7 linked regions of the Homo sapiens genome follow. The protein of the gene in region 1 interacts with the protein of each later gene in a pairwise test. Each region holds a gene or a part of one and is shown in the gene's direction. Other genes may lie near its edges. The genes, in order: ZMYM6, BANP, ZNF76, LMNA, SOD1, FLNA and ZBTB24.

Evidence for each region.
Region 2: the proteins of ZMYM6 (region 1) and BANP interact in binary tests that used the Homo sapiens proteins (3 or more experiments, as listed by UniProt).
Region 3: the proteins of ZMYM6 (region 1) and ZNF76 interact in binary tests that used the Homo sapiens proteins (3 or more experiments, as listed by UniProt).
Region 4: the proteins of ZMYM6 (region 1) and LMNA interact in a two-hybrid assay, tested with the Homo sapiens proteins (one large-scale study listed by BioGRID).
Region 5: the proteins of ZMYM6 (region 1) and SOD1 interact in binary tests that used the Homo sapiens proteins (3 or more experiments, as listed by UniProt).
Region 6: the proteins of ZMYM6 (region 1) and FLNA interact in binary tests that used the Homo sapiens proteins (3 or more experiments, as listed by UniProt).
Region 7: the proteins of ZMYM6 (region 1) and ZBTB24 interact in binary tests that used the Homo sapiens proteins (3 or more experiments, as listed by UniProt).

What each region holds. Positions count from the first base shown.
Region 1 is NC_000001.11:35,011,446-35,014,945, reverse strand, and holds part of ZMYM6 (zinc finger MYM-type protein 6), read left to right. Parts: intron 1-57; coding exon 58-249; intron 250-2,364; coding exon 2,365-2,515; intron 2,516-2,940; coding exon 2,941-3,056; intron 3,057-3,500. UniProt on the Homo sapiens protein: Plays a role in the regulation of cell morphology and cytoskeletal organization.
Region 2 is NC_000016.10:88,073,434-88,075,624, forward strand, and holds part of BANP (protein BANP), read left to right. Parts: intron 1-2,191. UniProt on the Homo sapiens protein: Controls V(D)J recombination during T-cell development by repressing T-cell receptor (TCR) beta enhancer function. Binds to scaffold/matrix attachment region beta (S/MARbeta), an ATC-rich DNA sequence located upstream of the TCR beta enhancer.
Region 3 is NC_000006.12:35,280,235-35,283,734, forward strand, and holds part of ZNF76 (zinc finger protein 76), read left to right. Parts: intron 1-821; 5' UTR 822-917; coding exon 918-990; intron 991-3,500. UniProt on the Homo sapiens protein: May be involved in transcriptional regulation.
Region 4 is NC_000001.11:156,135,211-156,138,710, forward strand, and holds part of LMNA (lamin), read left to right. Parts: coding exon 1-102; intron 103-650; coding exon of another isoform or gene 651-690; coding exon 691-911; intron 912-1,003; coding exon 1,004-1,226; intron 1,227-1,710; coding exon 1,711-1,818; intron 1,819-1,902; coding exon 1,903-2,022; intron 2,023-2,443; coding exon 2,444-2,533; coding exon of another isoform or gene 2,534-2,554; exon of another isoform or gene 2,555-2,656; intron 2,657-3,277; coding exon 3,278-3,500.
Region 5 is NC_000021.9:31,662,693-31,666,061, forward strand, and holds part of SOD1 (superoxide dismutase [Cu-Zn]), read left to right. Parts: intron 1-1,097; coding exon 1,098-1,194; intron 1,195-1,613; exon of another isoform or gene 1,614-1,790; intron 1,791-3,369. UniProt on the Homo sapiens protein: Destroys radicals which are normally produced within the cells and which are toxic to biological systems.
Region 6 is NC_000023.11:154,361,135-154,364,634, reverse strand, and holds part of FLNA (filamin-A), read left to right. Parts: coding exon 1-109; intron 110-262; coding exon 263-376; intron 377-469; coding exon 470-613; intron 614-1,850; coding exon 1,851-1,974; intron 1,975-2,056; coding exon 2,057-2,217; intron 2,218-2,302; coding exon 2,303-2,393; intron 2,394-2,486; coding exon 2,487-2,656; intron 2,657-2,847; coding exon 2,848-2,965; intron 2,966-3,064; coding exon 3,065-3,327; intron 3,328-3,500. UniProt on the Homo sapiens protein: Promotes orthogonal branching of actin filaments and links actin filaments to membrane glycoproteins. Anchors various transmembrane proteins to the actin cytoskeleton and serves as a scaffold for a wide range of cytoplasmic signaling proteins.
Region 7 is NC_000006.12:109,469,720-109,473,219, reverse strand, and holds part of ZBTB24 (zinc finger and BTB domain-containing protein 24), read left to right. Parts: intron 1-3,500. UniProt on the Homo sapiens protein: May be involved in BMP2-induced transcription.

The sequences.
Region 1 (3,500 bases):
TTTTTTTTTAACTGGCTCTGCTTATTTTGTGTGTGTATGTGTGTGTTTATTTCCTAGACTCGATTTGAAGTTAAATATCAAAATGTGGTACATGGTCTTTGTAGTGATGCCTGTTTTTCAAAATTTCACTCTACAAACAACCTCACCATGAACTGTTGTGAGAACTGTGGGAGCTATTGCTATAGTAGCTCTGGTCCTTGCCAATCCCAGAAGGTTTTTAGTTCAACAAGTGTCACGGCATACAAGCAGGTATGAATATCTATTTGTTGCATGTACTTAGGCCCACTCCTTCTGATTTGGCTGCACAGGGATGAACTACAAAATGAGAGTGAGCTCCTCCCATTAGTCCATCCTGATATGTGATTTCCCTTCCAGAAAATGGGATAGATTCTGATGGTGTGAGGGATGATTGTGGTGGTAAGTTGATATAGGTAAAATAGGTCCCTTTTTTAAGGCTCCCTTCATAGCTAAGAATTTACAAATGTGATTTCTTTTCTTTTTTTGAAATCGAGATAGGGTTTTGCCATGTTGCTCAGGCCGGTGTTGAACTCCTGAGCTCAAGCCATCCACTCGCCTCAGCCTCCCAAAGTGCCGGGATTACAGGCATGAGCAACCACACCTCGGCCTCATAAATGTAATTTCATGATTTTCTGTGAGCATGAAATATTTTGTGATGTATTGATAGCAAGAAAACCATATTATAAATAAACCATAAGCAAGAGTTAAGATGATAAAATCAGTGAATCTAAACAAAGCTTGTCTTTTTCATTTCAAAATGTGTTTGGGAATGAATTGTAATTATTTGGTCAACACTGTCTCATGAGAATACTTCAAGTAATTTTATTTATTGTAATGAATAATGGATTAAGCCGGTTACTAAATATTATCACCTTGTGTCAATTTAATTATTACTAATTTGTGGTTTTAAAAAGTTTTTCTTAAAGAAGTATCTTGTAAGGCCGGCGCGGTGGCTCACGCCTGTAATCCCAGCACTTTGGGAGGTCAAGGCGGGTGGATCACGAGGTCAGGGGTTCGAGACCAGCCTGACCAACATGGTGAAACCCTGTCTGTACTGAAAATACAAAAATTAGCTGGGCGTGGTGGCGGGCGCCTGTAATCCCAGCTACTCAGGAGGCTGAGGCAGGAGAATTGCTTGAACCCGGGAGGTGGAGGTTGCAGTGAGCTGAGATTGTGCCACTGCAGTCCAGCCTGGGTGACAGAGCAAGACTGTCTCAAAAACAAACAAACAAACAAAAAAAAAAAACAAAGATGTATCTTGTAAATGATAATTAAACTTTTTTTCAGTTAGCAAGTTTGATTTGTTGCTTCCTTTGAGCAGTTGGTAATGGACATATGGACATTCATCACTGAAAAGAATCTCTTTTTTTAAGATTTGCCATTTTTGGCAGTCTGGTTCTACTTTCACAGGAAAAGAATCCATGTTATTTTATATATGATCCCAAAATCAGTTCCATTTCTAATTTTGTTACTAGTATTGTACTCTGTCTTTTTACTAGGAAGATTATGTAGTGAAACCTCACAATTTATATTTTCCTACAATTTCTTTTCATATTGAGAGACCTTATAATGTATCACTGACAGCATAGTGTAGTGGTTAGGAGCCTGAACTTTGGAGCCTGATGAAATGAGTTTAATTTCCTACTTCTTCTGCTCATCTGTTAATTTAAACTTTTTGTTAATGTAATTTTTGAGAGCGCCTCACTCTGTTGTTGAAAGGTTTCTGTGATACACTATATATAAATTTCTTAGCCTGGGGCCTGACTCATGGTAAGCATTCAGTAAGTTATAATATTGGTTATGTAAATGGTAGCTATTTTTATTATTTCTTAAAACATGAATAAACTTATAAGCAGATTTTATTATGAAACTCAGCTTGAAAAATAGGTAGTTGTGTAGGATCTCTATTAATATACATTAAATATCATTTCTATCTCCTGCTAAAGAATCTCACAAATTAAGTAACCTTAAAGGTGGTAGACTCTTCTAGATTGATGTACAAGACTATACCAAGAATGACCCTTTGGTTCATGGGTTAGCTGGTCTTCTCTGGTTATTGGTGATTAAAAAGTATGTAATGACTATTTAATTCATTACTTGTGTTTGAATTCATGTGTTTTGTTTGCTAAGATCTCTATCTGAATAGTTACTAATTTTCTTCAGTTTCTATTTTATTGTTGTCTGGAAGAACTTATTTTCCCACCTCCCAATAGTGTGGTTTCATCATCATGCTCAAATATTTCAACCAAGGACCGTGGTTGTAGGTAGCTTTTCTTTTTACTTTTTTGAACAATATGTAAATATGTATGTTTGTACTAGGTATCTAATGTTATTTTATTTTAATAGAATTCTGCCCAAATTCCTCCATATGCCCTGGGGAAGTCATTGAGGCCCTCAGCTGAAATGATTGAGACTACAAATGATTCAGGAAAAACAGAGCTTTTCTGCTCTATTAATTGCTTATCTGCTTACAGAGTTAAGACTGTTACTTCTTCAGGTAATGTTTAAATTTGATAAATTTATAGATTTAATAACTATTGAAGAAAAACGTAACTGCTTTTCTCTGATTTTGTTACAAGCTAAATTTATCTATTTAGTTAAATAAAAACCCAAGACTGACTTTTAAATAACTGACTTTTATGTGAAAATAGTTTTTCCCCGATTTTCTTGGTTGCAATATATACAGTATTTTATAATTTCATATGTGAGAGGAAAGAAAAAACACTTAAAATTTCCAAGTTAGTTTTTGTGTAAGTGGGACTTAATAGAGGTTAGTTGTGGTTAGATTTCAGATTTTTATAAAGTTCCTTGATTTTTTTGGTATATTATTGATTATTTAATTTTTTCATTCTCCCAATACATTTTTGTATTGTTTGTTCATTGGTATAACTTAATCATTGTTTTTAATTTTTTGTCACCAAGGTGTCCAGGTTTCATGTCATAGTTGTAAAACCTCAGCAATCCCTCAGTATCACCTAGCCATGTCAAATGGAACTATATACAGCTTCTGCAGCTCCAGTTGTGTGGTTGCTTTCCAGGTATGATCTAAGGTAGCACATTATGCATGTGGTTCTGTTAGGCATCGATCTGTGGCACAGTGTTAACTGCTGAAGGCCTGTTCTTATGAAAGTTTAAATTTGAATTAAAAAGAAAAAAATTTGTTTCATCCAGGGGCCCAACCAGGTCATTTCTACAAAATATCTGAACCCAGATATTGGGTCTCAGCAGTTTCTTCTTTATTTAGGATCCTAGCCTAAACTGTCATTCCCTCCCACTTTCTCCCTTGGGTCTCTCCCCTTCAAAAAGATGGAAGCTAGGATTGTGGTTTGGGTAGGTGGTATGGTGAAGAACAGTAGCCTGATGGGATTCACATACCCCTTCCTCTCATCCTGTGTCAGAAACACAGTGACTCCTGGCATGGAATTGTAAGCATCCACTTGTCCCATTTTCTCCTCCCTCTCTGCAATACATACACAAAGAGT
Region 2 (2,191 bases), on another chromosome or scaffold:
CCGCAGAGGCGCGCCCTGTACTCTGCGTGGTGTTTGGTTCCACATTGTCGCCGACCTCACTGGAGATGCGCTGGAAGCACGGTGAGGGCCATGGGCGCAGAACGCACAGGCAGTGAGGAGCGGGTGGGTGGGATGGTGAAGGCAAACTCGTTCGGCAGCGCTTATTTTATGTGGTGTGAACCTTGGCCTGTCCGTGAAGAACAGTCAGGCGTGGCTGCCTCAGCCCCTGCCGAGGACGCGTGGCAGCCCCCCGTGCCGTTCCAGATAGGAGCGCTGCAGGAGGGCAGTGAGGTCCGCGCCCAGGAAACTAGATGTGGGGGCCATGCCTGAGGGCGTCCTGCTGCATTATAAGTTTCTGGTCATTTTCCGATTTCAGAATTGAACAAACCTGTGTCCCATGGTTGGTGTTTACACCCCTAGCTTCCTGTAAGCTCTCTCTGTTACCATGCCCTCCTGGCAGGCCCCAGGTGAATGATTTAATTAGGATCCATCGTAACAGCCAAGGAAGACGGCGTGCTTAAGGGGCCGCTTTCCCTGCAGAAAACCCCAGCGTGGTTGGACTTGGTGGTGAGCGGGTTTGCCCATCTGAGGCCAGACAACTGCAGGGTGCGTTAGCTTGTCACCAAGGGCCCAGCTCTCTGCCTTACCATCTCAGCTTGTCCTCAGGCTAGCTCTGCCCCACTGGGAAGTGACCGAAGGCCTTCATGGTGACTCTGCAGGCGTGACTGCACCCAACAGAGACAGGTTTCTGGTTGAGCCTCCTTATCCACATGAAGCCCCCACCCCAGTCATGCTTGGGAATGGTCTTGCATCTTGCATGGGTCAGAGCAGGGTCACGCGCTTGAGCTCGTTCTAGGAAAACCTGTGGCTCAGCTGTGAGGGCCTGGCTCTGAGAAGATGGGTTCCCTTAGGAGGGAAGGCAGGTAGCTGGCCTGTGGGGGTGGCCAATCCTCAAAGTGGAGAGTGGGGCCTGTTCCCTGGAGCAGTGGGTTGGGAGGGTAGGGGGGTGCCATTTGCAGGGGAAGACACTTGTCTTAATGCGCGGTGGCCTGTGGGTGTCACAGGCTCCCTGAACCATCTGTAGCAGAGGCAGCACCTCCACCAGCCTCTGCCCAGAACACAGGTCTGGCCACTGTCCTTGGAGGGCAAGTGAGTCCCAGCCAGCCCAGACCTGTGCCCCACTGTCCCCACCCACCCAAGTCCCCAGCTGCCTTTCCAGCTGTCTGGGGGAAGGGGCTTTGCATCCCAGGCGGTGGCCCCCCTACCCCAACCTCCCATGGCCTTCAGCCACCCACCCCAGGGCCCTGGTGTGGCTCCTCCATTCCAGCTGAGGTTCACCCCTTCCCGTTAGGCCTTCCCAGCTGTGGCCGGGCTCGCAGGAGACAGTCCTCATACTGACCCCTCATCCTACCCTGGAAGGCCCCTCCTCCATCCAGGGAACAGTATATCGAGTGTCATTTGACATTTGTCTTGAAAAAGCACAACCTGGACCAGGTGCAGTGTTTCATGCCTGTAATCCCAGTGCTTTGTGAGGCCGAGGCAGGGGCGTTGCTTGAGCCCAGGACTTCAAGACCAGCCTGGGCAACGTAGCGAGACCCCCATCTCTACAAAACGTAAAAAAATTAGCTGGGGCCGGGCACGGTAGCTCACGCCTGTAATCCCAGCATTTTGGGAGGCTGAGGCAGGCCAATCACCTGAGGTCAGGAGTTCGAGACCAGCCTGCTCAACCTGGTGAAACCCCATCTCTACTAAAAATACAAAAATTAGCCAGGCATGGTGGCAGGTGCCTGTAATCCCAGCTGCTCGGGAGGCTGAGGCAGGAGAACTGCTTGAACCCGGGAGGCGGAGGTTGCAATGAGTCGAGATTGCGCCACTGTGCTCCAGCCTAGGTGACAGAGTGAGACTCCGTCTCAAAAAAATTTAGCCGGGCGTGGTGGTGTGCACTGGTGGTCCCAGCTACTTGGGAGGCTGAGGTGGGAGGATCACTTGGGCCCATGAGGTCGAGGCGGCCGTGAGGTGTGCTTGCACTACTGCACTCCAACCTGGGCAACAGAGCAAGACCCTATCTCTAAAAAATAAAATGAAGCAGGACCTTAACTAGAGTAGAAGTTGCCAGGCCTCTTCCTCCCGTGGGCTCGGCCGTGGGCTCGTGGCTTCTCCTGGCTCTTCCTTTGTGGTTCCTGTGCCTTCC
Region 3 (3,500 bases), on another chromosome or scaffold:
ATGTTAGAACATGAGTTGGAAGAGGCTGAGGCAGGAAGATCACTTGAGCCCAGGAGTTCGAGGTTACAGTGAACTGTGATGGAGCCACTGCACTCCAGCTGGGCGACAGAGTGATACTTTGTCTCTAAAAAAGGAAAGAAAAGAAAATGAATTGGAAACAGACAAAAGTTTATCTGAGGACATAAGTTATAAGGCTCCTTATAGTTGTCCAGAGGTGAAAGGTGAGACATGCCTGAAATAAGTACCTGGACTTTTAAGGGAAAAGGAGGACTCAAGCATGATCCCCCCCCCCCCCGCCCTGAAGTTCTGGGTGGAAGGCGATACCACCCCTGGGATAGGGGATACTGGAAGTACAATAGTTCTGGAAGGTTGGGACACATTGTGAGTTCTGTTGAGGACTTATTCCACGTGTGGTACATGTGGGATGTTCCCTGAGGATGGTTAACAAGCTCAGTAGATAAATGGGTCCGAGCACAGGAGAGATGTTGGAGTAGGCAGAGAGAACCATCAGCAGTGGGGTTAACTGCCTGCCTTCAGCAGGGCTCCTTCCTAAGGGGAGAAAGTTTAGAAATGGGTTTTGATCAGTGATTTCTTACTTTATGACCAGTTTGATTGGCATGCTTCTCTTCTATGCTTAACTTTTAGAATTCTTAGATAATGTGTATTTTGAGCCCTTTTCATAAAAACCAATATAGTTCACTACTTTGAAGAATTCATCTTTTTTCTTCTTGGCTGGCTGGCCTCATTAACTCCTTCCCTGAGTGTCTTTGCGATAGGAGAAAGCTGGTTAACTCATAATGTGATACTGTTTATTTTCTTAGATTTGTGACCCAGAAGGAAATCTCTGACCTCAGCTGTGGCTCTTGGTGCTGGCCAGAAGCCAACTTCATGTCTGAGTGCACGAGCAGCAGTTTGCCATGGAGAGCTTGGGGCTGCACACGGTGACCCTTAGTGATGGGACAACAGCCTACGTCCAGCAAGCTGTCAAAGGTAAGTATTTCTGGGGACCTCAGGATCCTGCCCTGTCCCTCAGCCTCTGGAAAGGAGTGTCCATTTCTAAGAGTCCCACCATCACCTTGCCCTCCCGCCTGCTTACCCTTGCCCACCACCACAATTTGCTCTGCATTAGAATCTCCTGTGGTGCTTGATGAAAAGGGAACTCTAAAATAAAATGCTACAAGTCAGACAATCCCAGTCATAGGAACCAATACCTCTCAAAGACAGAATTCCTAATATGTAATAAGCAGTTGATAAATATTTCTGGAATGAACACAGTGTTAGTTATGACTCCCTGCTTTTCAGATATCCCCTGTCACAGTTTTTTAGTGCTTTCTAGAAGCAGTTTATCATCTTAATTCAAGTATATTCAAACATTCAAACTACTAAGCATCTGCCATGTACAAGATGCTCTTTTAAGCCAGGCATAGTGGCTCATGTCTATAATCCCAGCACTCAGAAGGCTGAGATGGAAAGATCACTTGAGGCCGGGAGTTGGAGACCAGCCTGGGCAACATAGCAAGACTCTTGTCTCTAAAAAAAATAATAAAAATAATAATCTGGGTGCAGCAGCATGCACCTTTAGTCCCAGCTATTCAGGAGGCTGAGGCAGAAGGATCACTGAAACCCAGGAGTTTGAGGGTTCAGTGAACTATCACTGCACCACTGCACACCAGCCTGGGTGACAGAGCAAGATCCCATCTCTTAAAAAAAAAAAAAAAAAAAGATACTCTTCCTGATTCAGAGAGGAACACCCAAGCAGAGATCTCATGCCCTAATCCCCACTAGGGGATGCCAGAATTGAAAATATAGGACATGTAGTTAAATTTGAATTGGACGTAACAATGAATACTCTTGTAGGATACATACATCCCAAATGTTGTAGGGACGTATGTATACCACATACTAGGGACATACATATACCCCTTATAAGGGATAGACATATATAAATGTGGGATTAAGCTGGGCTTGGTGGCATGCACCTGTAGTCTCAGCTACTTGGGAGGTTCAGATGGGAGGATCTCTTGAGGCCATAAGTTTGAGGTCAGCCTAGACAACAGCAAGACCCCATCTAAAAAAAAAGTAGGGGGTGTTAAATACTATAAAATACTAAAATAATAATACCAAGTTCTAAAAAAAAAAAAAAAAGTATTGTTTATCTGAAATTCAGATTTACCTGGGCATCCTGTATTTTATCTGGCAATTCTATCCTTACACTGAAGGTACTTAAAATCAAGGTAGGTGTGGAGTCAGAATAAAGTGTTTAGGGCAAGGCCTGCAGGCCAGGGACACTTTTCCTTTCTTGCCAGTGTTCTCAGGCAGCCAGATAGCATTCGTGTCTTCCTTGGACAGCACCTTGAACAAGGCAAATACTGCCTTGTTCCTACTGTTCATTTGGCGTTTTCTGGACTCCATGATTGTCACTGTCCTCCTGAAGCACTGTCATTGCAACATTGCCCTCCTTTATTTCAACACACTCTCAGAATATATTTCTGCTCCTAAGTTTACAGATAAGTTGTTTATTGATTTCATTTTAAGTTGTCTGTTTCCTGATGATGACTAAGGAGTCCCCTTAATCTCATCAGTAAGCACTTTCCATATGACAGTGTGTGGGGGTCCCTTCTGGAAAGGTTTCTTGTCAAGAGCTGTCTGTGACATGTGGGTTCTTGTTGGCTTCATCTTCTTGAGAACGCAACTTCTCTAGAATGCTTTTGAAGCCTGAAACTCTCTGTTTGCAGACTTCCCACTCCAGGTCTTGCCCCTCCAGTGCAGTCTCCATGGGATGGAAGAACTTAGAACTCTAGCTAGGGTTGTGTTTACTCCTTGGACCCAGTTAGTTCCCGTGCCTCAGTCTTCCACTGAGAATTAATGGTCAAACAAATGAATAAAAAGCAAGTGACCACACCTGACCTGAGAGAGCCACTCTTTCCTTATATCTATCCTTCTTACGTATTTCTTTATTCTGTCAGTCTTCCTGGCTGTTCTTTGCCCACTCTGTAGTGTTGCAGTGTGCACTTACACACACACATATGCAAACACACACTCACTCACAACAGATTTTCCCTCTGCTCAGGGTAGAGCTCTCCTTCAGAGACCAGAACCACACTTTCCTGAAAGGCTTCTCTGACTTCTCCTCTGAAGCTTTTGACTGAGGCATTTTTGTCTCTGTCTGCTGGAAGCCCTAAAATTGTAAGAGACTTATCTTTAATTAGGATGAGTATAAAATGTATTATTCAAACCCAGCATTTTAAAAGTGGAAGAATGTGCTATTAATAAATGCACTAGGACTGTTCCAGGCAAACTGGGGCGTATGGTCACCTCTCTGTAATGGGATATGAGGCCCTTGTCAGTCAGCTGTTCTCCCCACTGCCTCTCTCCATTGTAGTCTCTGGTTGTTTGAGGAAATAGTAGGCTAAGTTTTTTCTTCAGACAACTCTTCTCAACATTTTGTTTTCTACCTTGAAGCAGTACCCACTCTGCTGGCCGTAGCTTGCTGATGCTTT
Region 4 (3,500 bases), about 120 Mb from region 1:
GAGAGGAACAGCAACCTGGTGGGGGCTGCCCACGAGGAGCTGCAGCAGTCGCGCATCCGCATCGACAGCCTCTCTGCCCAGCTCAGCCAGCTCCAGAAGCAGGTGATACCCCACCTCACCCCTCTCTCCAGGGGCCTAGAGTCTGGGCCGGATGCAGGCTGGAAGCCCAGGGTTGGGGGTGGGGGTGGGGGTGGGAGGTTCCTGAGGAGGAGAGGGATGAAAAGTGTCCCCACAACCACAGAGAAGGGTCGCAGGATGTGGAGTCAGATGGCCTGTGTGCTGTTTCTGTACACTCTTACCTCACCTTCACTTCTCAGGGCTTTGGTTTTCCCATTCGAAAATGGAGGCTGTTCTTAATCTCCCTAACTCAGAGTTGCCACAGGACTCTGCAATGTGAGGTGTTAAAAGCATCAGTATTTTTCTAGTTGGCTGTGCTATTTGTGACAGGAGAAAAAGTCTAGCCTCAGAACGAGAGGTTTCAGTTAGACAAGGGGAAGGACTTCCCAGTTGCCAGCCAAGACTATGTTTAGAGCTTGTGATGTTCAGAGCTGGCTCTGATGAGGGCTCTGGGGAAGCTCTGATTGCAGATCCTGGAGAGAGTAGCCAGGTGTCTCCTACACCGACCCACGTCCCTCCTTCCCCATACTTAGGGCCCTTGGGAGCTCACCAAACCCTCCCACCCCCCTTCAGCTGGCAGCCAAGGAGGCGAAGCTTCGAGACCTGGAGGACTCACTGGCCCGTGAGCGGGACACCAGCCGGCGGCTGCTGGCGGAAAAGGAGCGGGAGATGGCCGAGATGCGGGCAAGGATGCAGCAGCAGCTGGACGAGTACCAGGAGCTTCTGGACATCAAGCTGGCCCTGGACATGGAGATCCACGCCTACCGCAAGCTCTTGGAGGGCGAGGAGGAGAGGTGGGCTGGGGAGACGTCGGGGAGGTGCTGGCAGTGTCCTCTGGCCGGCAACTGGCCTTGACTAGACCCCCACTTGGTCTCCCTCTCCCCAGGCTACGCCTGTCCCCCAGCCCTACCTCGCAGCGCAGCCGTGGCCGTGCTTCCTCTCACTCATCCCAGACACAGGGTGGGGGCAGCGTCACCAAAAAGCGCAAACTGGAGTCCACTGAGAGCCGCAGCAGCTTCTCACAGCACGCACGCACTAGCGGGCGCGTGGCCGTGGAGGAGGTGGATGAGGAGGGCAAGTTTGTCCGGCTGCGCAACAAGTCCAATGAGGTAGGCTCCTGCTCAGGGTCTAAGGGGATACAGCTGCATCAGGGAGAGAGTGGCAAGACAGAAGGATGGCATGTGGAGAGAGGAACATCCTTGCCCTCAGAGGGTGGACCAGGGTGAGCCTGTATATCTCCTCCACACTCTGGTTCCAGGCCTGGCTCCTGGACTCTTTGGCTGTGAGACCTTGAGCAGGTTATTTAACCTCTCAGAGCATCAGTTTCCTCATCTGTAAAATGGGGATGAATACTGATCCCTAAGTCTTTGAGTTGTCAGGAAGATGAAAGATAAGGTATCCGTGTGCCTGGTGCTGCGTATGTGTCCACAGATCATGGCTATTATCCCCGGGGGAAGGGCAGTGACAGGGGTGTGTGTAGATGGAAGGAGAGGCCTCAATTGCAGGCAGGCAGAGGGCTGGGCCTTTGAGCAAGATACACCCAAGAGCCTGGGTGAGCCTCCCCGACCTTCCTCTTCCCTATCTTCCCGGCAGGACCAGTCCATGGGCAATTGGCAGATCAAGCGCCAGAATGGAGATGATCCCTTGCTGACTTACCGGTTCCCACCAAAGTTCACCCTGAAGGCTGGGCAGGTGGTGACGGTGAGTGGCAGGGCGCTTGGGACTCTGGGGAGGCCTTGGGTGGCGATGGGAGCGCTGGGGTAAGTGTCCTTTTCTCCTCTCCAGATCTGGGCTGCAGGAGCTGGGGCCACCCACAGCCCCCCTACCGACCTGGTGTGGAAGGCACAGAACACCTGGGGCTGCGGGAACAGCCTGCGTACGGCTCTCATCAACTCCACTGGGGAAGTAAGTAGGCCTGGGCCTGGCTGCTTGCTGGACGAGGCTCCCCCTGATGGCCAACATCGGAGCCAGCTGCCCCCAACCCAAGTTTGCCAATTCAGGGCCCCTTTCTAGAGCTCTCTGTTGCAGGCTCCAGACTTCTCCACCCAGTAGGCAAACCAAAAGATGCTTCCTCAACAGCACAAGGGGTGGAAGTTAGACAGTGAGGATTGTTAAAGGCAGAGCCATACTCCTACCCGGAGAGCTTGACAGTGTCCCTCTGGGGTGGAAATGAGTTCCTTAGCTCCATCACCACAGAGGACAGAGTAAGCAGCAGGCCGGACAAAGGGCAGGCCACAAGAAAAGTTGCAGGTGGTCACTGGGGTAGACATGCTGTACAACCCTTCCCTGGCCCTGACCCTTGGACCTGGTTCCATGTCCCCACCAGGAAGTGGCCATGCGCAAGCTGGTGCGCTCAGTGACTGTGGTTGAGGACGACGAGGATGAGGATGGAGATGACCTGCTCCATCACCACCACGTGAGTGGTAGCCGCCGCTGAGGCCGAGCCTGCACTGGGGCCACCCAGCCAGGCCTGGGGGCAGCCTCTCCCCAGCCTCCCCGTGCCAAAAATCTTTTCATTAAAGAATGTTTTGGAACTTTACTCGCTGGCCTGGCCTTTCTTCTCTCTCCTCCCTATACCTTGAACAGGGAACCCAGGTGTCTGGGTGCCCTACTCTGGTAAGGAAGGGAGTGGGAACTTTCTGATGCCATGGAATATTCCTGTGGGAGCAGTGGACAAGGGTCTGGATTTGTCTTCTGGGAAAGGGAGGGGAGGACAGACGTGGGGCATGCCCGCCCTGCCTCTCTCCCCCATTCTTGTTGCATGCATATCCTCTCATTTCCCTCATTTTTCCTGCAAGAATGTTCTCTCTCATTCCTGACCGCCCCTCCACTCCAATTAATAGTGCATGCCTGCTGCCCTACAAGCTTGCTCCCGTTCTCTCTTCTTTTCCTCTTAAGCTCAGAGTAGCTAGAACAGAGTCAGAGTCACTGCTCTGGTTCTCTGTCCCCAAGTCTTCCTGAGCCTTCTCCCCTTTTATGTCTTCCCTCTCCTCCTCCGGGCCCCTAGCCTCCCAAACCCCCATTGCCCGCTGGCTCCTTGGGCACAGAACCACACCTTCCTGCCTGGCGGCTGGGAGCCTGCAGGAGCCTGGAGCCTGGTTGGGCCTGAGTGGTCAGTCCCAGACTCGCCGTCCCGCCTGAGCCTTGTCTCCCTTCCCAGGGCTCCCACTGCAGCAGCTCGGGGGACCCCGCTGAGTACAACCTGCGCTCGCGCACCGTGCTGTGCGGGACCTGCGGGCAGCCTGCCGACAAGGCATCTGCCAGCGGCTCAGGAGCCCAGGTGGGCGGACCCATCTCCTCTGGCTCTTCTGCCTCCAGTGTCACGGTCACTCGCAGCTACCGCAGTGTGGGGGGCAGTGGGGGTGGCAGCTTCGGGGACAATC
Region 5 (3,369 bases), on another chromosome or scaffold:
ATATAATATTTTCTGACTGCTAATTAAAAATACCTGTGATAGCCGGGCGTGGTGGCTTACGCCTGTAATCCCAGCACTTTGGGAGGCCGAGACGGGTGGATCACGAGGTCAGCAGATGGAGACCATCCTGGCTAACACGGTGAAACCCCGTCTCTACTAAAAATGCAAAAAAATTAGCCGGGTGTGGTGGTGGGCGCCTGTAGTCCCAGCTACTCAGGAGGCTGAGGCAGGAGAATGGCATGAACCTGGGAGGCGGAGCTTGCAGTGAGCCGAGATCATGTCACTGCACTCCAGCCTGGGCGACAGAGCGAGACTCGTCTCAAAAAAAAAAAGAAAAAAACTTATGATGGACACTTAAAAACACTCACTGAGTGGGGAGTGGAGAGCAGGGGTCCCAGGGTAGCCTGTTGGACATTTCCAGGGCGACTTTTTCTTTTTTTTTTTTTAAAGTCAAGTGAGTATGCCATATGGAAAAGGGTGTGCGTGGAGAAAAAGCAAGGGGCTCCAGAGTGTAGGATGAGACATACACCTTTTGGGTTAAAAAGGCTGAGGCAGGAGAATGGCGTGAACCCGGGAGGCGGAGCTTGCAGTGAGCTGAGATCATGCCACTGCACTCCAGCCTGGGCGACAGAGCGAGACTCTTGTCTCAAAATAAAAAACGTTTACATGTACATGTATATTCAACATGTACAAATATAACCTATTCAAAAGTATTTACTACATAAATAGGTACTTACATTACCTATTTACTGTAATAGTCAAAGCCTATGAAGTATCTAACACTGATGTGTAGGTACTCACTTTGCTTGCCACTCTATTAGGTGCTTTTTATGTTATTTAATCATGAAGCCTGGCCACAGGGTGCTTGTGCATTGAGTGTGGGAACAAGATTACCATCTCCCTTTTGAGGACACAGGCCTAGAGCAGTTAAGCAGCTTGCTGGAGGTTCACTGGCTAGAAAGTGGTCAGCCTGGGATTTGGACACAGATTTTTCCACTCCCAAGTCTGGCTGCTTTTTACTTCACTGTGAGGGGTAAAGGTAAATCAGCTGTTTTCTTTGTTCAGAAACTCTCTCCAACTTTGCACTTTTCTTAAAGGAAAGTAATGGACCAGTGAAGGTGTGGGGAAGCATTAAAGGACTGACTGAAGGCCTGCATGGATTCCATGTTCATGAGTTTGGAGATAATACAGCAGGTGGGTGTTGTGCTGTGCTGGTGACCCATACTTGTTCACCCTAGTTAGATAAACAGTAGAGTAGCCCCTAAACGTTAAAACCCCTCAACTTGTTTTTGTTTTTGAGAAAGGGTCTTGCTCTGTCGCTCAGGCTGGAGTGCAGTGGCGCTGTGCGATCATGGCTGACCTTAGCCTTGACCTCCCAGGCTCCATTGATCCTCATGCCTTGGCCCGTAGCTGGGACTACAGGTACACACCACCACGCCTGGCTAATTTTTGTATTTTTTTCTAGAGGTGGGGTTTCATCATGTTGCCCAGGCTGGTCTTGAACTGCTGGGCTCAAGTGGTCTATCCTCCTCGACCTCCCAAAGTGCTGGGATTACATGTGTGAGCCACTGTGCCTGGGAAAACCCTCAACTTTTCTTTTAAAAAAGAGGTCAACTTTATTGTATATAAGCACTGTGCTAAAATTGCAGGAACTGGGACCATATCCTGATTTTTGTAATAATGCCAGCAGAGTACACACAAGAAAAGTAACTGCACTAGATTGTGAAGACTGGGGTGGACCTGCTTCTGAAGGTCCAGTGCCCTTTGTCTTAAGATTTGGTGTAGTGTGTCTTTAGAAACCAAAAAAAGAGAAGAAGATCAACCTTAAGATTAGCCACAAAACTGGGCTTTGATACCTAGGTGTGGAAAAGAAAGGGAAAGAGTTGATGTTTTGTCTTACAGCATCATTGTAGAAGAGGGTGTTTTTTTGTTTGTTTGTTTTTTGAGACGGAGTCTTACTCTGTGGCCCAGGCTGGAGTGCAGTGGCGCGATCTCGGCTCACTGCAAGCTCCGCCTCCCGGGTTCATGCCATTCTCCTGCCTCAGCCCCCTGAGTAGCTGGGACTACAGGTGCCCGCCACCCCGCCTGGCTAATTTTTTGTATTTTTAGTAGAGACGGGGTTTCACTGTGTTAGCCAAGATGGTCTCTCTCCTGACCTCGTGATCCGCCTGTCTCAGCCTCCCAAAGTGCTGGGATTACAGGCATGAGCCACCGCACCCAGCCAGAAGAGGGTGTTTTTTAAAGAAGGCAAATAGGAAATAAAAACTTGGGCTCTTAACTTTTGTAATGATCCCAGGTGTTTGAGCTGGGGGTTGAGGGTGGGTGCCTCGAGCAAAGGGGCTGCATTTATTTGCATAATGCCATGTAAGAGTAGCTCTACACCCCAAACACAGGCTTCTTAGTGGGACCAAAGTATGATACAAACTGAAGATGGAATGCAGAGGATTATTGGTACTTTGGAATATGCTTAAAAAAAATTTTTTTAAAGTATTTTTAAAAAATCAGGCAACCCCTGAACCAGAGTAGGTTCAGAGAAACTGCCAAATTTTATTTTCTTAATTTGGGATTGGAAGCAAGTTAACAGAAGTTTATGAGTTAAGTTGCATTTAGTGATCTTTTGCCATATTTGAGTAATAATCTGATTTTTTTGTTTATAGATTTCTTCTTAAATTAACTTTATTCATCTTGCTAATTTAGTTTCAAATAGTGATTTGTAATGATCAGATTTGATCCATTTCTGTAATTGCTGAAATTCCCCCGAGTTGCTTTTTGGCTTTACCGCCTCTGGTCTGGGAGGTGATTGCTCTGCTGCTTCCTGTAACTTGCCTGCCTTTCTCCCTGTGTGGGACTCCTGCGGGTGAGAGCGTGGCTGAAGACAGCCGTGTTATGAAAGGGCCTCCTGTGCTGTCGAGGTTGTGCTCTGTGAATGTCATCCCCTGGTGCACAGCAGCACCTTCTACACAGGATACAGTTGGAATGCCGCCCCCTCGAGTTGTGTAAGGCAGCAGCCTTGGCCCTTGCACATAAGATGCTGTTGAATATTCTGCCTGCACCAAGTAAAGGGCACAGATAGAACTGCTTGGCATATGTTGCTGGGGAGATGAGTTTTTTGTAAAGTATACTACGTTCTTAAGAATTTGGATCATAACCATGGGATTTTAATAATAGAAAAACTGTTGAAGATCAGTCTGGTCCCTTATTTTTACAGTGAAGAAGCCAAAGCCCAGAGAAGGGTGTTAACTTTACAAGTGTCAGACAGTAGTTAGAACTTGGTGGGGTTTTTTTTTTTTTTTTTTTGAGATGGAGTCTTGCTCTGTTGCCCAGGCTGGAGTGCAGTGGTGCGATCTCAGCTCACTGCAACCTCTGCCT
Region 6 (3,500 bases), on another chromosome or scaffold:
GGAGGCTGGCGAGTATGCCGTTCACGTGCTGTGCAACAGCGAAGACATCCGCCTCAGCCCCTTCATGGCTGACATCCGTGACGCGCCCCAGGACTTCCACCCAGACAGGGTAAAGAGCAGGCTGTGATGGCCTAAGTCTCGCCCTGCTGCTCCTGCTTGGGGTCTGGTGGGGATGGCACTCTGTGTCCCTGGCCACCCTGCCTGGGTTGTAGCTCTGGCAGCCTGGACCTGGCCCCCTGACAGCTGGGTGGTCTCCCGCTAGGTGAAGGCACGTGGGCCTGGATTGGAGAAGACAGGTGTGGCCGTCAACAAGCCAGCAGAGTTCACAGTGGATGCCAAGCACGGTGGCAAGGCCCCACTTCGGGTCCAAGTCCAGGTAGAGCACCCACGGGTGTTGGGGGCAGGGCAGGTGTGGGCACCCAGGCCTGGGCACTGACCAGCAGGCCACCTGCTCCTATCTGCCTGACAGGACAATGAAGGCTGCCCTGTGGAGGCGTTGGTCAAGGACAACGGCAATGGCACTTACAGCTGCTCCTACGTGCCCAGGAAGCCGGTGAAGCACACAGCCATGGTGTCCTGGGGAGGCGTCAGCATCCCCAACAGCCCCTTCAGGGTGAGCCAACCTCCACCGGCCTTTAGTCCATCTCGATAGCATTCACGTAGCACACGATTCGTCCATTTCAAGTGGTTGTGGCACACCATCCTGACTCCCCTGTCCCACAGCTCCTGGTGACCACTAACCTGCTTTCTGCTGTGGCTTTGCCTATCCTGGACATGTTCTATAGATGGAACTGTGTGCCATGTGGCCTTTTGTGTCTGGCTTCTTTCGCTCACCACGAAGTTTTCCGTGTTTTCGTTCATGTTTGGCATGTCTTGGCACTTTGTTCCTTTATAATTATTTTGTTTATTTATTTATTTATTTGAGATGGAGTCTCACACTGTCGCCCAGGCTGGAGTGCAATGGCGCGATCTCGGCTCACTGCAGGCTCTTTCTCCCAGGTTCACACCATTGTCTTGCCTCAGCCTCCCGGGTAGCTGGGACTACAGGCGCCCGCCACCCCCCCGGCTAATTTTTTGTATTTTTAGTAGAGACAAGGTTTCACTGTGTTAGCCAGGATGGTGTCGATCTCCTGACCTTGTGATCTGCCCACCTCGGCCTCCCAAAGTGCTGGGATGACAGGCATGAGCCACCGCGCCCATCCTGGTTTTTTTTTTTTGAGCCGGAGTTTTGCTCTTATTGCCAGGCTGGAGTGCAATGACGTGATCTCAGCTCACTGCAACCTCTGCCTGCCAGATTCAAGCAATTCTCTCCTGCCTCAGCCTCCTGAGTAGCTGGGATTGCAGGCATACGCCACCATTCCCAGCTAATTTTGTATTTTTAGTAGAGACGGGGTTTCTCCATGTTGGTCAGACTGGTCTCAACCGCCTGACCCCAGGTGGTCCGCCCACCTTGGCCTTCCAAAGTGCTGGGATTACAGGCATGAGCCACCACGTCCGGCCGCTTCATTTATTTTTATGGCCGCATAATACTCCATTGTGTGGCCAGACCACATTCCATTTTTCCGTTCACTTGCTAACAGATATTGAGGATGAGCTTGCCTTTGGTGATCATGAACAGTGCTGTTAACAGTGAGTCCAGGTGTTTGCGTGGACATTTGCTTTCATTTCTCTTGGGTAGTTGCCTCGGAGTGAACCGGAGCATCACACAGTCCCTCTGTGGTCAACTGAGGAACTGCCAGACTCTTCCCAAGGCAGCTGGACCATTTTGTGTGCCTGCCAGTGTAGCTGAGGGAGCTTCTGAGTCTCCTCCAGGCTGCTCATGCCCTTGCCCTTGCCCCTGTGCCCTGCAGGTGAATGTGGGAGCTGGCAGCCACCCCAACAAGGTCAAAGTATACGGCCCCGGAGTAGCCAAGACAGGGCTCAAGGCCCACGAGCCCACCTACTTCACTGTGGACTGCGCCGAGGCTGGCCAGGGTAAGGCCTGGCTGTGGGTGGGAGGGCAGGTGGCTGGGGTGTCCCTGCGAGGTCTCAGCCTCCGCTCCTCTCCCCGCCGCAGGGGACGTCAGCATCGGCATCAAGTGTGCCCCTGGAGTGGTAGGCCCCGCCGAAGCTGACATCGACTTCGACATCATCCGCAATGACAATGACACCTTCACGGTCAAGTACACGCCCCGGGGGGCTGGCAGCTACACCATTATGGTCCTCTTTGCTGACCAGGTGGGTGCTGCGCTCCTGGCCGCTAAGATGTCATTGCGGATGACGTCTGCCCTCCTCTAAGGCCTTCTCCTCCCACTGCCTGCAGGCCACGCCCACCAGCCCCATCCGAGTCAAGGTGGAGCCCTCTCATGACGCCAGTAAGGTGAAGGCCGAGGGCCCTGGCCTCAGTCGCACTGGTGAGGACAGGTACCCCATGGCAGGTTGCGGGGCATCAAGGGTAGGAGGGCTTGGGGCAGGGTGCCCCTACATGGTCCCTGTGTGTTCCTCAGGTGTCGAGCTTGGCAAGCCCACCCACTTCACAGTAAATGCCAAAGCTGCTGGCAAAGGCAAGCTGGACGTCCAGTTCTCAGGACTCACCAAGGGGGATGCAGTGCGAGATGTGGACATCATCGACCACCATGACAACACCTACACAGTCAAGTACACGCCTGTCCAGCAGGTAGCCACACCCTCCACTACAGTCACCGAGTCCCCAGCCTCCTCATGCAGCAGCCTAGGGGACAGCTCCGAGGGACTTTCTGCCCACTCTCATTCCTTACCTGGGAGAGGACAGGCATGGAGGTCCAGGAGGGGGTTGGGGAGCAATTCTGGTGTCTCTAAATACCCCCTTCCCTTCTGCACCCTTCCCAGGGTCCAGTAGGCGTCAATGTCACTTATGGAGGGGATCCCATCCCTAAGAGCCCTTTCTCAGTGGCAGTATCTCCAAGCCTGGACCTCAGCAAGATCAAGGTGTCTGGCCTGGGAGAGAGTAAGTAGTTGGGGCCCTTGTCGCAAAGGCCTTTGTCACATCCAGGGATTGGCTGAGCTGGGTGTCATGTCTCTCTCCTTCCTTTCATCGTTTCCACAGAGGTGGACGTTGGCAAAGACCAGGAGTTCACAGTCAAATCAAAGGGTGCTGGTGGTCAAGGCAAAGTGGCATCCAAGATTGTGGGCCCCTCGGGTGCAGCGGTGCCCTGCAAGGTGGAGCCAGGCCTGGGGGCTGACAACAGTGTGGTGCGCTTCCTGCCCCGTGAGGAAGGGCCCTATGAGGTGGAGGTGACCTATGACGGCGTGCCCGTGCCTGGCAGCCCCTTTCCTCTGGAAGCTGTGGCCCCCACCAAGCCTAGCAAGGTAATTGGGGTATGGGAGGCCCTAAGGGTAGAACCCACTGTGCTCTCTGAGGGCCCCAAAGGTACCCCATCTTCTCCAGACCTGCCCTAAATCCTTTTTTTTTTTTTTTTTTCCTGAGACAGACTGTCAACCTTGACCCTGTTTAAGTGAGAGTAAAGGGGAGGAGGGAAATA
Region 7 (3,500 bases), on another chromosome or scaffold:
CCTTGTCCCAGCTGCCAAGATTCTGATTGACTTCACCTGGGCAGAGCCTGGGAATTGGTGTTTTTTAAAGTACCCCTCAACAGTTGTAGGGTGCACTCGGGCTGAAGTACTTTGAAGGCCACAGTAAAGATTGGATTTTATTCTGAGGGAGATGGCTTTACTGAGATGAGTGACATGGCATGACTTAGGGTTGTAATAGGGTCACTCTAGCCACCCTGTGAGGTGGGGGCGAGGCCAGGGTGGAGGCAGAGAGACCCATCAGGAGGCTGTGCAGTAGTGGGGCTCGGAACAGCACAGTAGCAGCAGAGGTGGTGTCAGGTGGTCCAGTTCTGGAGATAGTCCAGGGAAGAATTCATGTGATTCGCTCATGATTGGATGTGGGAGTTGAAAGAGGAGGCAAAAGCCACTGTGAGGAGGAAAAGCTAGGGAAGACTAAGAAGAACAGATCAGGAGTTAGATTGTGGACTGGTTGGTGTCTATTTGACATCCATGTGCAGGTGTGGGGTAGATCATTAGATTTCCAGGTCTGGAGAATTCGGGGGAGAGATGCAGCCAGAGCTCTGGATTTCCACAGGTGCACATGTGCCTGCAAATAGTGGGTGGCGCTGTGCTGAGTTCCCTAGGGAGACAGCGGTGGTGGAGGAGCGTGGAGCTGGCTTGGTCATGCTGAGCAGTGCCAGAAGAGGCACTTCCCCTTGGTTCTGTTGCCTGAGCATAAGGGGGAGTGAGGTTTCTGGGCTTTGTGAGTAGCAGTAGGACTTGAAGTGGGGATGAAAAGGAACAGAAGACCTCCCCCACTATAATTCCAGCAAACTCTTCTCAGCCTGTCAACTTTGAGAAGCAGAACAGAAAGTGGAAGATGTGTGATGAGTTAAAAAGGAGACAGACGGGCCTCTGTGGTTTGCATGACTTAGAAATATGAAAAGAAATTGAACCTATCAAAAAATTGGGGTTCTTCAAGAGCAGCAACTATGACCCATCTGTCCCTAGCATCAGCATGGAGAATCTGCTTGAATGTTGGTGAAGGGCATTGGCGTGCCATTTCCCTGCTCCCTGGGCATTCAGAGTGAGAAGTGCCAGTCCTACTCTCAGGGCCATGCTCAGCTGGAAACCAAGACTTCATCTCTTAGAGATGAGCTGTCATTCATCTCTTAGATCTTTAGGCACAAACTCTCTGGGTTAGATGTCCTGCACCAAGCACTGGAGAAGTCAAAGGCAAATTAGAGATGTTCCCTTTCCTAGGAGTGCATCCCCAGTGAGGGAGGTGAACACATTTTGACATGGAGGCAAAGTGTCAGGCAGACAAGCAGTACCTGCCAGGTCACCACATCTCAGGCCCTTCTGCTCACATCTTGTCCCCATACCTGGCACTGGTCAGGTTTACAGGGACCCAATCAAGCCAAATGAGTTCACAGGACAGATAAACCAGAGGATATATCAACTCAATAGAGGGATTACACCTTTCTGTTGCCCACAGCACCTCCTTCCTCACATTAGTGACCCGAAAGCCAAGTTAGTGATCAGAAGATTGCATGGTGAGCTGGGAACAAGTCAAGGGAATTAGCCCAGGTCACAGAGAAGCCTGGTGAGTGACCTCTGACCCCACAGCACAGTCCCACCCCGCCAGTGTCCCTGTTCCTGGATGGTGTTCCATAAACACTGATTCTGCCCTGAGGGTTCCTACTCACAGGTAGATGGCCCTGTCAGGGAACAAATGATAAAGTTCAGTAAGTCACAGTTCTGTTCACAGCCTCATTGTGGCTTGAAGTTGAAGCTTCCCAAATCTCTTCAACTGTGTGTTGAGACCATCCATTAACGTTGAGACCTGGGGGTCTTCCCATCTTCCTGAGACCTGGGGGCCCCTCACCATAACATGCCCTTACAGAGTCTACGTGCCATCTACTATGAAACAGTATGGCGTGGTCAGAGCCACAGCAGAGGTGTGAACACAGGACAGGAAACAGCTGAGAAGACCATATAGGAATGCCAAGTACACAGGTGTCAAACCATGCTATCCACAGTTATCATGGACATGTGTCCCTTTTTTGCCAAGATTGGCAAGTACATGAGGAAATGCACATCTTTATTTATTGTTGGTGGGAATATAATTTGGGAACCCCCTGGAAGGAACTTTTGCAATACTTACCAAAACATAAACTGCACAATTGTGAAAAGATGTTTGCCTAAGGATATTCATCATAGGCAGCATTGTTTATAACTTAACAAGCTTAACAGCCACCTGAATGTCCCAGGAGGGGATTAGATAGGTAAATTTGGGGCAGTACACACAATGGTACACAGCACAGGGTTTTAAAATGGTGGTGTGGCTTTACTGATGTGACAAACGGCATGCATTGGATGACCTCACACAGTAAGACCGCAAATAAACAGATTTGTCTGTAAAGATATTCGCCATTGTTAACTGGTTGTCTCAAGAGATGAGAATAGTGGAGCAGTTTTAATATTCTTTGTATTTTCAATATTTGATTCTTTTACAATGAACACAGTAATTTTTTAAGAAAAACAAAGCCGTGGTCCACAGTGGGAGGCAGGATGCTGAGGGGTCCACACGGACGGAACTGGACTGCCAGGTGAATGTGACAGCTGAGGGAATGGGAGGTGTCACTGTGATTGTTGTGCCTGGCTGGACAGGGGCTGGGTGATGTTGTCATTAACATGTCATGCCCCATGTTATTCTGGGTTTCAGCAGGTGGGCATGGGAAATCCAGCTGTGATGCCAATAAGCAGTGACTCATCGATCCTATCTGGAGTGGGGTCCGGGATTTAAGTCACTGGGGAAGGGTAGGGGTGGGATCGGTGGAGTAACTGCTGAGAAGAGGATCTGGAAGTACACCCTGGAGCTGTTTCAGTACTTCCGTTGACATCACCCTGGGTGGGTGGGATTGGTGTAGTAACTGCTGAGAAGAGGGTCTGGAAGTACACCCTGGAGCTGTTTCAGTACTTCTGTTGACATCACCCTGGGTGGAACCTTTCATCACACTCCTGTCTCTGCCTTTTCCTTTAATCGCTATTGTCTAATCCTCTTGTAACACACTTCTTTCCGGTCCCCATGCCTCTCAGGCCCTGTCCTATTACCTTATCCTTCTCCGTCTGCCTCCTGCCACCTCCTGGTCCAGGCCTTGTGCATAGCCTGTTAGAGGTCCTCCTGCCTCTAGCCCACCCTCCTCATCATTCCCAGGTGTATTTTCTTAGTACTTTCAGCATGTCATTCTGCTAAAAACTTCCAGAGGCTCCACAGGTCCCCTGCCTGGATTTCATAGCTCCTGTTGCCTTGGCCTCCTGACTCCTGACAGTGATCCTTGGTCACTGGTGCACACCGTGTAGTCATTTCTGACACCAGCTTCTGCTCATACTATTTAGACTAGTACCCTGGCCCAGGCTTCTTTCCAGTCTAGCCAGATCCTGCCCACCCCATCCAGCACCCTGTCTGCACTCAGAATTGTTGACGCCACTCGTTTTAATGTTCAGTGAAACACAGC